Regions from separate parts of the Homo sapiens genome. Here region 2 is linked to region 1. The links come from fine-mapping of genetic effects on gene expression. A gene starts in region 1. The other region holds a variant in brackets. All regions are shown on one strand. Distances are from middle to middle.

Region 1 (5,374 bases):
AGAGACAGGGTCTCACTCTGTCAGCCTGCCCATAGCTCACTGCAACCTCCAACTTATGGGCTCAAGCAGTCGTCCTGCCTCAGCCTCCCCAGTAGCTGGAACTACAGGCATGTGCCACACATACCTGGCTAATTTTTAATTTTTTTTTTAGAGATGGGATCTCGCACCATGTTGCCCAGGCTGGTCTCAAACTTCTAACCTCAAATGATCCTCCTCCCTCAGCCTCCCAAAGGGCTAGGATTACAGGCTTGAACCACTGTACCCTGACTAAAAAGATCTTCTGTGTTGAATATGACAACATTGTATGCCGGCCCCAACAGATTTAATTTATGCAACATAGTCCAGTTACAGTATCCTTATATATGCAAGAAAGGTGTACTACCATTACATTTTTTTTTAATGCTTAAGGGGATATAGAAGCCATACAATAATTTCACTTAAATAATTTTAATCTAGAGAGAGTTTTATTGAGAACTCACCAAATATCTGGGAGAGATGGGCTTGAGCCATTTGAGAATAGCTACTCCATAGGCAGAGCAGCTGAGCATTCTGTTTATCAGCAGGATCCTATTGCTATATGCATTACAAATGAATTTTAAAATAATTTATAACATTTCTTAGGCTTAATATGTATTTTTTAAAACCTGAATTACATTCTGTACAATTCACCTTTTACCTATCCTTGATGTTTATTTAAAATAAAAGACAACAAAACCCCTAGTATATTTTGTGGGCATTTGTAGTTAACCTAGACTACAAAGGCACCTGCTCCCACTCCAGGCCACGTAATGTTGTTGTTGTTGTTGTTTTGTTTTGTTTTTGTTTGAGTCTTGCTGTGTCGCCCAGGCTAGAGTGCAATGCGCGATCTCCGCTCACTGCAACCTTTGTCTCCCGGGTTCAAGCGATTCTCCTGCCTCAGCCTCCCGAGTAGCTGGGATTACAGGAGCCCACCACCACGCCCAGCTAATTTTTGTATTTTTAGTAGAGACAGGGTTTCACCATGTTGTCCAGACTGGTCTCGAACTGCTGACCTCAGGTGATCCACTCGCCTCGGCCTCCCAAAGTGTTGGAATTACAGGCGTGAGCCACCGCGCCCGGCCTGGGCCACATAATCTAAATACTTTGGATACTAGATAGTTTACAGAGAAGTTTCAACAATTTGAGATTTGAGATTAAAAATAGGTGGTAGTTATACTTGGACCAAAGAATGTTAAAAGATTGACTAGCTCTCTTTTAAGAATGAGGGGGTTATGTAATGAAAATTCCGCAAATATAGAGATAAAAGATATCTACATAAAGAGAAGGCAGTAGAAAATGAATGTTTTGAGAGTGATTTACTCTGCCTCACCTTCCTTTTAGTCACTGAAGTTTTGTTTTCCTTTTTAATGTTCACATACGGGCTTCACAGGTAAGGTTTCAAGAATTTTGGAATGGACAAAGAGTGTTGCAAAGGAAAGCTTAGTACATTTGAAAGTTAGGATGAACCAGTTATTTGCCTAATAACTAAGTTAAAAGTCGTTTTGGTTTTTAAAAAGCATATGCAAAACGTATTCACTGAGGCTTGCTCTAATTAGAGTTCTAAACAAATCTTGTAGGGTTTTTTTTTTTTGTCTTTAATCTCCCCCCTTCCCGTGTCAAGTTAAACTGGGTGGGTGGGTGGGTGTGTGTGTGTGTGTGTGTGTGTGTGGAGAGAGAGCCTGCAAGAGAATTAGCACGCACCTCGTGGATCTTAGTAATTGTTTTAAAGCCAAATAAAACTGTTTCTTGAATAAACCAATACATTTCTGAAGTTGAAAAGAATCCCAAAGGAAACGAATGAACATCCTTGCAGCTTGATTTTCCAAAAAAAAAAAAAAAAATTTTTTAAATTAAAAAAATCCTAATCTCCACATTTTTTGCCAGGCGAGAACCGAAGTTTGGAGGTAGACGAGCAGGCGAGCGGTTTGCCCGGGCGCAGAGCATGAAGGCCGGGCGGGCGCGGGGAGCGGCGCCCCGGCCCGGCGCGGGGGTGAGCGAGAGAGAGAGCGGAGCGCGTGTGGCCGGCGCCGCTCGGCCGGGAGCTCCCGCGCTCCGGCCCCCGGCCCCGCGCCCGCCGCCGCCGCCGCCGCCGCCCCTGTTGCGATGGCGCAGAAACCCCGTTGACAAGGCACTGCTTTTTCATGACGGTGAGTTTCCCTTTGAGTGTATTATAATTTTGTGATAAAAATTTCAAGGAGAAAAAAAAAACACACAACCTCCTTCCTCTGCCTCTTTCCTTCGGGGAGGGGAAAAGCGAGGGAGGGGGGGCTGGAGATCTGTCTCCAGACTGAAAAGAAAGGAGCAAATTAAACACCGAGTTGCCAAAACCAGGATATTAGGTTTCAGCCCAGAGAGCTATTGGCTAAGGCTGTGTTTTTTTTTTTTTTTTGGGGGGGGGTGGGTTTGTGGGTGGGTGATGGTGGTGGTGGGTGGATGTTTAATGGACACGGAGAAAAGGGGAATCGAGTGTTTATGCCTTTCCCAGCGCTGCCGGGGCCCCGGGAAGACCAAGTTCAGTGTCTCGGGCGGGGGCGCAGGCGGGCAGGGGGCGGCGAGGCCGGGCCGGGGGCGCCTCGGCGGGGTGGGGGCCCGGCGCCTTTCTTTTTCCTTTTTTTTCTTTTCCGCGGATGCAAATTTCTGGAGCGGGGAGAGGGAGAGCCCGGGAAGGGGGTGGCGTGGCGGTTGGTGGTGGGGAGGGGAGGGGAGGGAAGCCTTTTAATGACTCATTGATTGAGCCGGTTTAAAATTAGTTGTGTGCGCGAGTGTGAGTGTGTTTTCCGCCCCCCGGAGCCGCCGGGAGCCGGGAAGGAGGGAGCAGGGCTCGGCGAGGGGAAGACGGCGCGGCGGGGCCGCGAGCAGGGGGCAGGGAGGGCCTGGAGTGACGGCGGGCGAGGAAGAAAAATAAGCTTTTCCAATCTCCTCCCCTCTGTTTTCCCCCCCTCGTTTCTTTTCTCTCTCGGAAGCTCTAGGGTGTGAATCACATTTTCTTTCTTCTCGGCAAAATGGACCCCGCGTCTGGGGAGGGGGAGGGGAGAGGGTGGGGAGGGAGGCGGCGGAGACGGGGTTTATTTTTCATCCTGGCTTCCCCATTCCCGCCGCATCTGCGGGCGGCCGCGGCGAGGAGAGCAGGTCCGGGGTGCGGCGGGGAGAGCTCGGGGCAGGCGAGTCGCCCCGGCCCCGTTCCCGCTCCCGCTCCGAGCCCGCGGCGGCGGCGCGCACCTGCCGCGGGACTGCCCCTTCCCAGCCGCCTCGCTGCCTTTTCGAAGCACCGCCGAGGATCCGCGGCCGCGTCCGGCCGAGCCCCCAGCCGCGCGGAGGACCGGCGGCCCAGCCGGGCGTCTCCTGCGAGGCCCGCGCTGTTCGCCGCGCCGGCCAGAAGAGATGTGCGGCTGGGACGGCGCATTTTTGGCCGAGTGCGCGCGGGCGTTATGCTGTTCGCGCCCCCCCGAGTCGCCCCAAATGCGGGATATTGGGTGGGGGGGTGCGGTTGGAAGGCGCTAAGATGGCGCTGGGCCTGGCCTGTCGCCAGGGCTGGTGGCGCAGTTGCTCGGCGGGCGCCATCTTTCTCGCGGCGCGGGCGGCGCCCTCCGAGGACATCTCGATGACCAGGGCGCCGCGAGGCCCGGGGCTAGCGGGAGCCGAGAGCAGGGTGCTGAATTCTGGAGATGGGACTGGGGTCGCGCGGCCTTCTCCTTCCCCACGCCCCCAGACCCAAAAGACGAGGCCGCCGGCTCGGAGCGGGAAGGGCTGGGGCCAGCTTCTTCCTCCTAACCACTTGTTTGTGATGGAAGAAGGGGGCTGGGGGTCGAGCCTCGCGGCTGATGGGTTCCCTCCCTGACCCCGCACCCCCACTCCTCCCAGTCGAAATTGGAGGTGAGGCGCTCCTGCCATTTTCTCTCCTGCGGTCTGAGAGTGGACGTCTTTGTCTTCTCTGGCCCGGCGTGGGGGCAGGGCATTGAGCCTTTTCCTTAATTCTTCAGTTATTGAAAGTAGAGTCCAACCAGGTTACAAAACTAAAAAAAAGAGTCCAGGACATTGTCTGTCTGCCTTCCGGTAGCATGGTTCTCTGTGGGTACCCTACGCTTCGTTTCTTAGTTTTACTCTAAAACAACCCTGAGGAGACATTTACTAGTTGTCAGATTACGGGAAGGTGATGGGTTCCAGTTTTTTGAAACTTTTTTTGTTGGCTTTCATATTACTTCAAATGGCAGTGAATTAAAACAGTTTCTTAGAACTCTAATCTGAAAAGTTAAATACGCTTTAAAACAGTCTGAAACTCTTCTAAAAAGCAAAACTGCATTATTAAAAGCATCCATGTAAGTATCTGTTGGTAGTATCTATTAGAGATGGGGGAGGGGTTTAACTTTTACATTATTATTGAAAAGAGGAGGGGAAAGGTCTATAAAGCTCTGATCTCTCTAGAAGTCCACATACATGGAAAGTAAATAGTTAATTTCTAGTGTAGAAAAATAACACCGTGGTGCCAGTAGGTGTGTCCTTGTGTTTATAAATATACATAGTGGATGTTTTAGACCATTTAATGAGACCTATTATATATTGAATACCTGCTGTATGCCAGGAACTGTGCCTGATGCTTTGTATAATTTCTATTATATCAGCCCAGAAATAGTGATTTTATGATCTGTCTACCGGGGAATGAACTAACGTTCATAGAAGTATAGTAATTGTTCGAGGTCTTGCAGTTTTAAGTAGTAAAGTTGCCATTGGATCACAAAAGCTGTATTCTTCCCCCTACACCTATGGTTTCCAAATGTGAGCATCAGAATTAATTTGGGAGATGTTTTTAAATAGAGATTTGTAACATCACCTCTTCCACCATCATTTGCTAGGGCCAACTGGGTCTTTTAATAATGTGTCAGGCACTCCAACTTCTTGATGTTCAATATTGACATTCTGGCCCACCCTGCACCCGCTATATCCAAAGATCTAGTATTCCAAAGCTCTCCAGGTGATTCCAGTGACACAGACACACGTTTGGACTGTCTTGTACTATGCTATGCACTGTTCTGCTCTTTTTTGAATTGGAACATGAGAATTGAGGTCCATGTAATTTTGAGTTTCAGTAGTTTTTTGCTCACATTAGTCTCATTTTTGTTTTTCCTCTTGTAGCTGCCATTTATCAAATCGAAATTATTTCCTCAGAGAAAAAGGTTTAGGTATCCTAAGACTTTAAAATCTCAGTACGTTTTTTTTTAAAGTATGTTGTCTCATTCTATTGAGAAGTTATACAACATACAGGCTTCTAGGTCTAGCCAGGCCATCTAGTTTAGTCAAGACAGCTGTGTAACAAACGTAGCCTTGAGGCCTGGCACGGTGGCTCATGCCTGTAATCCCA
Region 2 (5,374 bases), 77 kb after region 1:
ACATAAATGATTGGTGGGAACCTGTGCTTTTGAGGTCAGGGTCATAGTTTGAGTCCTCTGTGGGGCTAGTTAAACTAAGTTATAAACCCACTATGGTATAAAAAATATAAAACTAAAAAACTGCCGTATTATTCCTATATATCTTATTTTATTTGCATGCAAATAAATATGACTAGATTTAATTTCCTAACATGACTTTACATTGACATTGACCATTTCCCTTGTAAAGCATTCTCCAGCAGTTGCAGAGGGACCAAGCCCACACTGTGACACCAGACAAAAGTCACTTCCGATCACTAAGTGATGCGGTACAGAGACTGCTCTCCTACCACGTGTGCCAGGGCTCCATGCCCACTGAAGAAGACTTGAGAAAAGGTAAGCAGGCTGGGACCCTAAGGCACCACTCTGATACCAGGAAACCCTCCATGGACACCCCCCAGAAAAGCAAGAGCCACATCACCCCCAGATGGTAGGCAGGTTATTGTTTTTAATCACAGACCAAACTTGTTCCCTGTTTACTCAATTTCCCAGTCCATGTTTAAGGTTGTGACTTACACTTCTCAGTATTTTTTGAAGGGAAGTCAAGAGTAGGGGCACACACCTGTAGTCCCAGCTACTCAGAAGGCTAAAGCAAGAAGATCATGTGAGCCCAGGAGTTTGAGACTATAGTGTGCTATGATCACGCCTGTAAATAGCCATTGCACTCCTGCCTGGGCAACATAGGGAGACACTGTCTCTTAAAAAAAAAAAAAAATATATATATATATATATATATTTTTTAGGAGGGTACCCTAATGTCAGAGTATTTTATTGACAAATTAGGGACAGTAAATCCAAAGCTTTGTATGGACTGCCGGCTCCAGATGGGATGGCTTTGCACTAGACACTCTACACAGTGGTTTTGCATAGTCCTTGCCTTTAGGCCATATGCATACCCTGAATTTTTTTTTTTTTTTTTTTTTTTTTGAGATGGAGTCTCGCTCTGTCACCCAGGTTGGAGTGCAGTGGCACGATCAACTCACTGCAACCTCTGCCTCCCAGGTTCAAGTGACTCTCCCTGCCTCAGCCTCCCCAGTGGCTGAGATTATAGGCGCCCACCACCACGGCTGGCTAATTTTTGTATTTTTTTAGTAGAGATGGGGTTTCACCATGTTGGCCAGGCTGGTCTTGAACTCCTGACCTCAGGTGATTGGCCCGCCTCAGCCTCCGGAAGTGCTGGGATTATAGGCATGAGCCACCACTCCTGGCCAAACTGTTTCTAATAGTTTTATGAATTAGGCACTTGAGCTCCCAAAAGCATTCCCTAAGATTCCAAAATGAGTCCAGAGCATTGGCCACACATCAAGAAACTGACAAAAATGTGAGAGATAAAGGCTGAGCACAGTGGCTCACGTCTGTAATCCCAGCACTTTGGGAGGCTGAGGCAGGCCGATCACCTGAGGTCAGGAGTTCAAGACCAGCCTGGCCAACATGGTGAAACCCCGTCTCTACTAAAAATACAAAAATTAGCTGGGCGTGGTGGCACACGCCTTCAGTCCCAGCTACTTGGGAGGCTGAGGCAGGAGAATCGTTTGAACCTGGAAGGCAGAGGTTGCAGTGAGCGGACATCGCACCACTGCACTCCAGCCTGGATAACAGAGCAAGACTCTGTTTTAAAAAAAAAAAAAAAAAAAAGGCTGGGCGCAGTGTCTCACACCTGTAATCCCAGCACTTTGGGAAGCTGAGGTGGGTGGGTCACCTGAGGTCAGGAGTTCGAGACCAGCCTGACCAACATGGAGAAACCCTGTGTCTACTAAAAATACAAAATTAGCCAGGCGTGGTGGCACATGCCTGTAATTCCAGCTACTCGGGAGGCTGAGGCAGGAGAATCACTTGAACCCGGGAGGCAGAGGTTCCCATGAGCCGAGATCGTGCCATTGCACTCCAGCCTGGGCAACAAGAGCGAAACTCCATCTAAAAAATAAATAAATAAATAAATAATAATTTAGAGATAAGAGCCCCTTCCCCAAACCTAGAACTCCTTCTGTCCTGATGCCTGGCCATGCTCTTTCCCACCACCACCGCTAAGGCCTGGCTGTATCAGTGCCCTCCTCTTTTCTAATCCCTTCCTCAGCTGCTACAAGTCTTACTCCTCCTGGCAGGGACCTCTAATCTCAGGGCACAGTGGTTTCTGTGAGTCCACTGTGGGCTTCCCTAGGACACCAAGGAATAGGGTCAAGATCCAGCGTTAAACAGGGGGTGTGAAAGGGCTGGGCATGGTTCTTCACGCCTATAAGCCCAGCATTTTGGAAGGCCGAGGTGGGCAGATCATGAGGTCAGGAGTTCGAGACCATCCTGGCCAACATGGTGAAACCCCATCTCTACTAAAAATACAAAAAAATTAGCAAGGGCATGGTGGTGCACACCTGTAGTCCCAGCTACTCGGGAGGCTGAGGCAGGAGACTCACTTGAACCCGGGAGGAGAAGGTTGCAGTGAGCTGAGATTGCGCCACTGCACTCCAGCCTGAGCGACAGAGCAAGACTCTGTCTCAAAAAAAAAAAACCCACAGTGGGTGTGAAGACTGAGAAGAAGAATGAATTAGAAGGTGTTCAAATCCTTGGAGACCAACAGACAGAGGACAGAGCCACATGACCATGACAGTTTAATGTAAAGCTGTGTCTTTACATTAAACTGGTTTACCTAGTCCAGACAGTTGGACTTCATTGTTTCAGCTATTTTAGTTTTTCATACCATTAGGCTTAGGTCATCTAAACTAGCAGATCATTCTCTACTCATTGATATATATATATTTTTTTTTGAGACAGAGTCTCATTCTGTTGCCCAGGCTGGAGTGCAGTGGCACGATCTTGGCTCACTGCAAGCTCCGCCTTCTGGGTTCACGCCATTCTCCTGCCTCAGCCTCTCGAGTAGCTGGGACTAGAGGTGCCCGCCACCACGCCCAGCTAATTTTTTTTTTGTATTTTTAGTAGAGATGGGGTTTCACCATGTTAGCCAGGATGGTCTC[C/G]ATCTCCTGACCTCGTGATCCGCCCACCTCGGCCTCCCAAAGTGCTGGGATTACAGGCATGAGCCACCGTGCCCGGCCTACTCATTGATATTTATTGCGAGTCTGTTATATGGTTTTATTTTATAGGTGATATCAAAGTAATTATGTTTTTGGTTTCCTAGTTAAAGTTAAAAGAGTTAGTAATAAAATGAGTTTCCATGACCAGTGGACAGTGAGGGAATGCAGTGTAGAAGGATGATGCTTAGCCGGGGAAAAGCTCATCTAAGAAGAGAAAATTGCCCCAGATAAGCCATGTTTGAATAACAGAAGAGTAATGTATTTCAGTCTTAAGAAACAGAAGACCTAGTCAGTGATTTACAGTCTCTCACTATTTCTTTGTCTCTCTCTTTTTAAAGTGGACAATGAATTTGAGACAGTTGCCACTCAGCTCCTAAAAAGGACCCAAGCTATGCTTAACAAATACAGATGCCTGCTCCTAGAAGATGCCATGGTAAAAGTCATGCTACTGATATTTGTTCTTTAAAACTTTACAGGTCACAGCCACTAAATCAGAGACAGAAAGGTCAAGGAATTATAGAATATAATGTAAAAGTAACAGATATTTCACACTGTAGAAAAACTTACGCTTAGCTGCTACTACAAAAACAGCAGTGAACATTTGCTGTACTTTACTTGGTGGGTCAGTACTATTCTCTTGTTTAACGGATAAGGAAACCAGGGCTTTGGTTAAGTAACTTGCTCGAGAACAGATGGCTAAGAAGTTTGCAGAGTAATTAGCAGAGCTCGGATACGAGCCAGGATCATCTGACCCCTGGTCCACACTCTGATGCCATCTACCGCCTTTCACCAACCCAGAGATGTGGGAGAAGGACTGGAGGCACATCTGAACAGATAAGCTGGTGACAAATGTCAAAATTAGTTTTGTTTTTGAGAGATCATTGACATTCCATAAAATTTACATTTAAAGTGTACAACTGAGGCCAGGCATGGTGGCTTATGCCTGTAATCCCAGCACTTTGGGAGGCCAAGGCGGGTGGATCACCTGAGGTCGGGAGTTCAAGACCAGCCTGACCAACATGGAGAAACCCCTTCTCTACTAAAAATACAAAAAGAGCTAGGCGTGGTGGCGCATGCCTGTAATCCCAGCTACTCGGGAGGCTGAGGCGGAAGAATCACTTGAAGCTGGAAGGCAGAGGTTGCAGTTAGCCAAGATCATGCCATTGCACTCCAGTCTGGGCAACAAGAGCGAAACTCTGTCTCAATAAAATAATAATAATAATAATGAAAAATAATGGATCACCTGAGGTCAGGAGTTTGAGACCAGCCTGGCCAACATGGTGAAACTCGTCTCTACTAAAATACAAACATTTCAGTGTTCAGAGTTGCAGTGAGCCGAGATCGCACCACTGTACTCCAGCCTGGGTGACAGAGTGAGACTCCGTCTCAAAAATAAATAAATAAATGAAGTGTACAACTTGATGGTTTTTAATACATTTACAAGGTCATATTGTCATCACCACTGTCTAATTGCAGAACATTTTGATCATCCCAGATAGAAACTGCAATTCATTTGAAGTGCCAGTTAAATAGAGAAAGGAGTGAGAATAAGATACCTCAGAAAATGATAGAAAGACCGAACCTGAGATTTGAGAAGCAGTTCTAAAATCATATAGGCTTTAACCTATCAATTGGTCTCTTATAACTCATTTTCAATTTGATATCAACTTTGAAAATGTACCTTGGGAGATTGGTTGAGCTATATTATACACATATACAACATAGAGTAAATGTGTATCCGTGTGTCTGTATTTACTTAAATATATCTATATTTACTTAAAATTATGCCACCAGGCCAGGCACAGTGGCTCACGCCTGTAATCCCAGCACTTTGGGAGGCCGAGGTGGGTGGATCACCTGAGGTCAGGAGTTTGAGACCAGCCTGGCCAACATGGCAAAACCCTGTCTCTTGTAAAAATAAAAAAATTGTCTGGGTGTGGTGGTGCGTGCCTGTAATGCCATCTACTCCAGAGGCTGAGACAGGAGAATTGCTTGAATCTGGGAGGTGAAGGTTGCAGAGAGCCAAGATTGTGCCACTGCACTCCAGGCTGGGCGACAGAGCGAGACTCTGTCTAAAAATAAATAAATACAATAAAAAATAATGCCACCAAAGTCTGTAATAATTGTTCTCAGGCAGGTGCGGAGGCTCATGCCTGTAATCCCAGCACTTGAGGAGGCCAAGGCGGATGGATCACCTGAGGTCAAGAGTTCAAAAAGATTTCTAAGATACATTATTAAGTAGAGGAGAAAAAAATACAGAACAGTATATATAGTTGCTACTATTTGGGTACAAAATAAAGAAGTATATTTCT

Evidence for each region. PIP is the estimated chance that this variant, and not a neighbour inherited with it, causes the effect.
Region 2: its variant is the best candidate, but not a certain one, in a credible set for the expression of BICRAL in whole blood (INTERVAL, PIP 0.85).

Annotation. Positions count from the first base shown.
Region 1 is chr6:42,779,937-42,785,310 of GRCh38, forward strand. BICRAL (BICRA like chromatin remodeling complex associated protein) reads left to right here and starts at 2,116. Exons shown (of 13, transcript NM_001393499.1): 1 at 2,116-2,165. It overlaps LOC401261 (a long non-coding RNA gene), which reads left to right and starts at 3,560. Exons shown (of 2, transcript NR_134654.1): 1 at 3,560-5,374. RefSeq lists enhancers at 2,925-3,614, 3,471-3,660, 3,615-4,304, 3,681-3,750 and a silencer at 3,051-3,390.
Region 2 is chr6:42,856,862-42,862,235 of GRCh38, forward strand. It overlaps BICRAL (BICRA like chromatin remodeling complex associated protein), which reads left to right. Exons shown (of 13, transcript NM_001393499.1): 10 at 230-375; 11 at 3,401-3,495. Among named protein-coding and RNA genes, the nearest start is that of RPL7L1, 20 kb to the right of the region's middle. The variant C/G (reference allele first, on the strand shown) is at 3,006.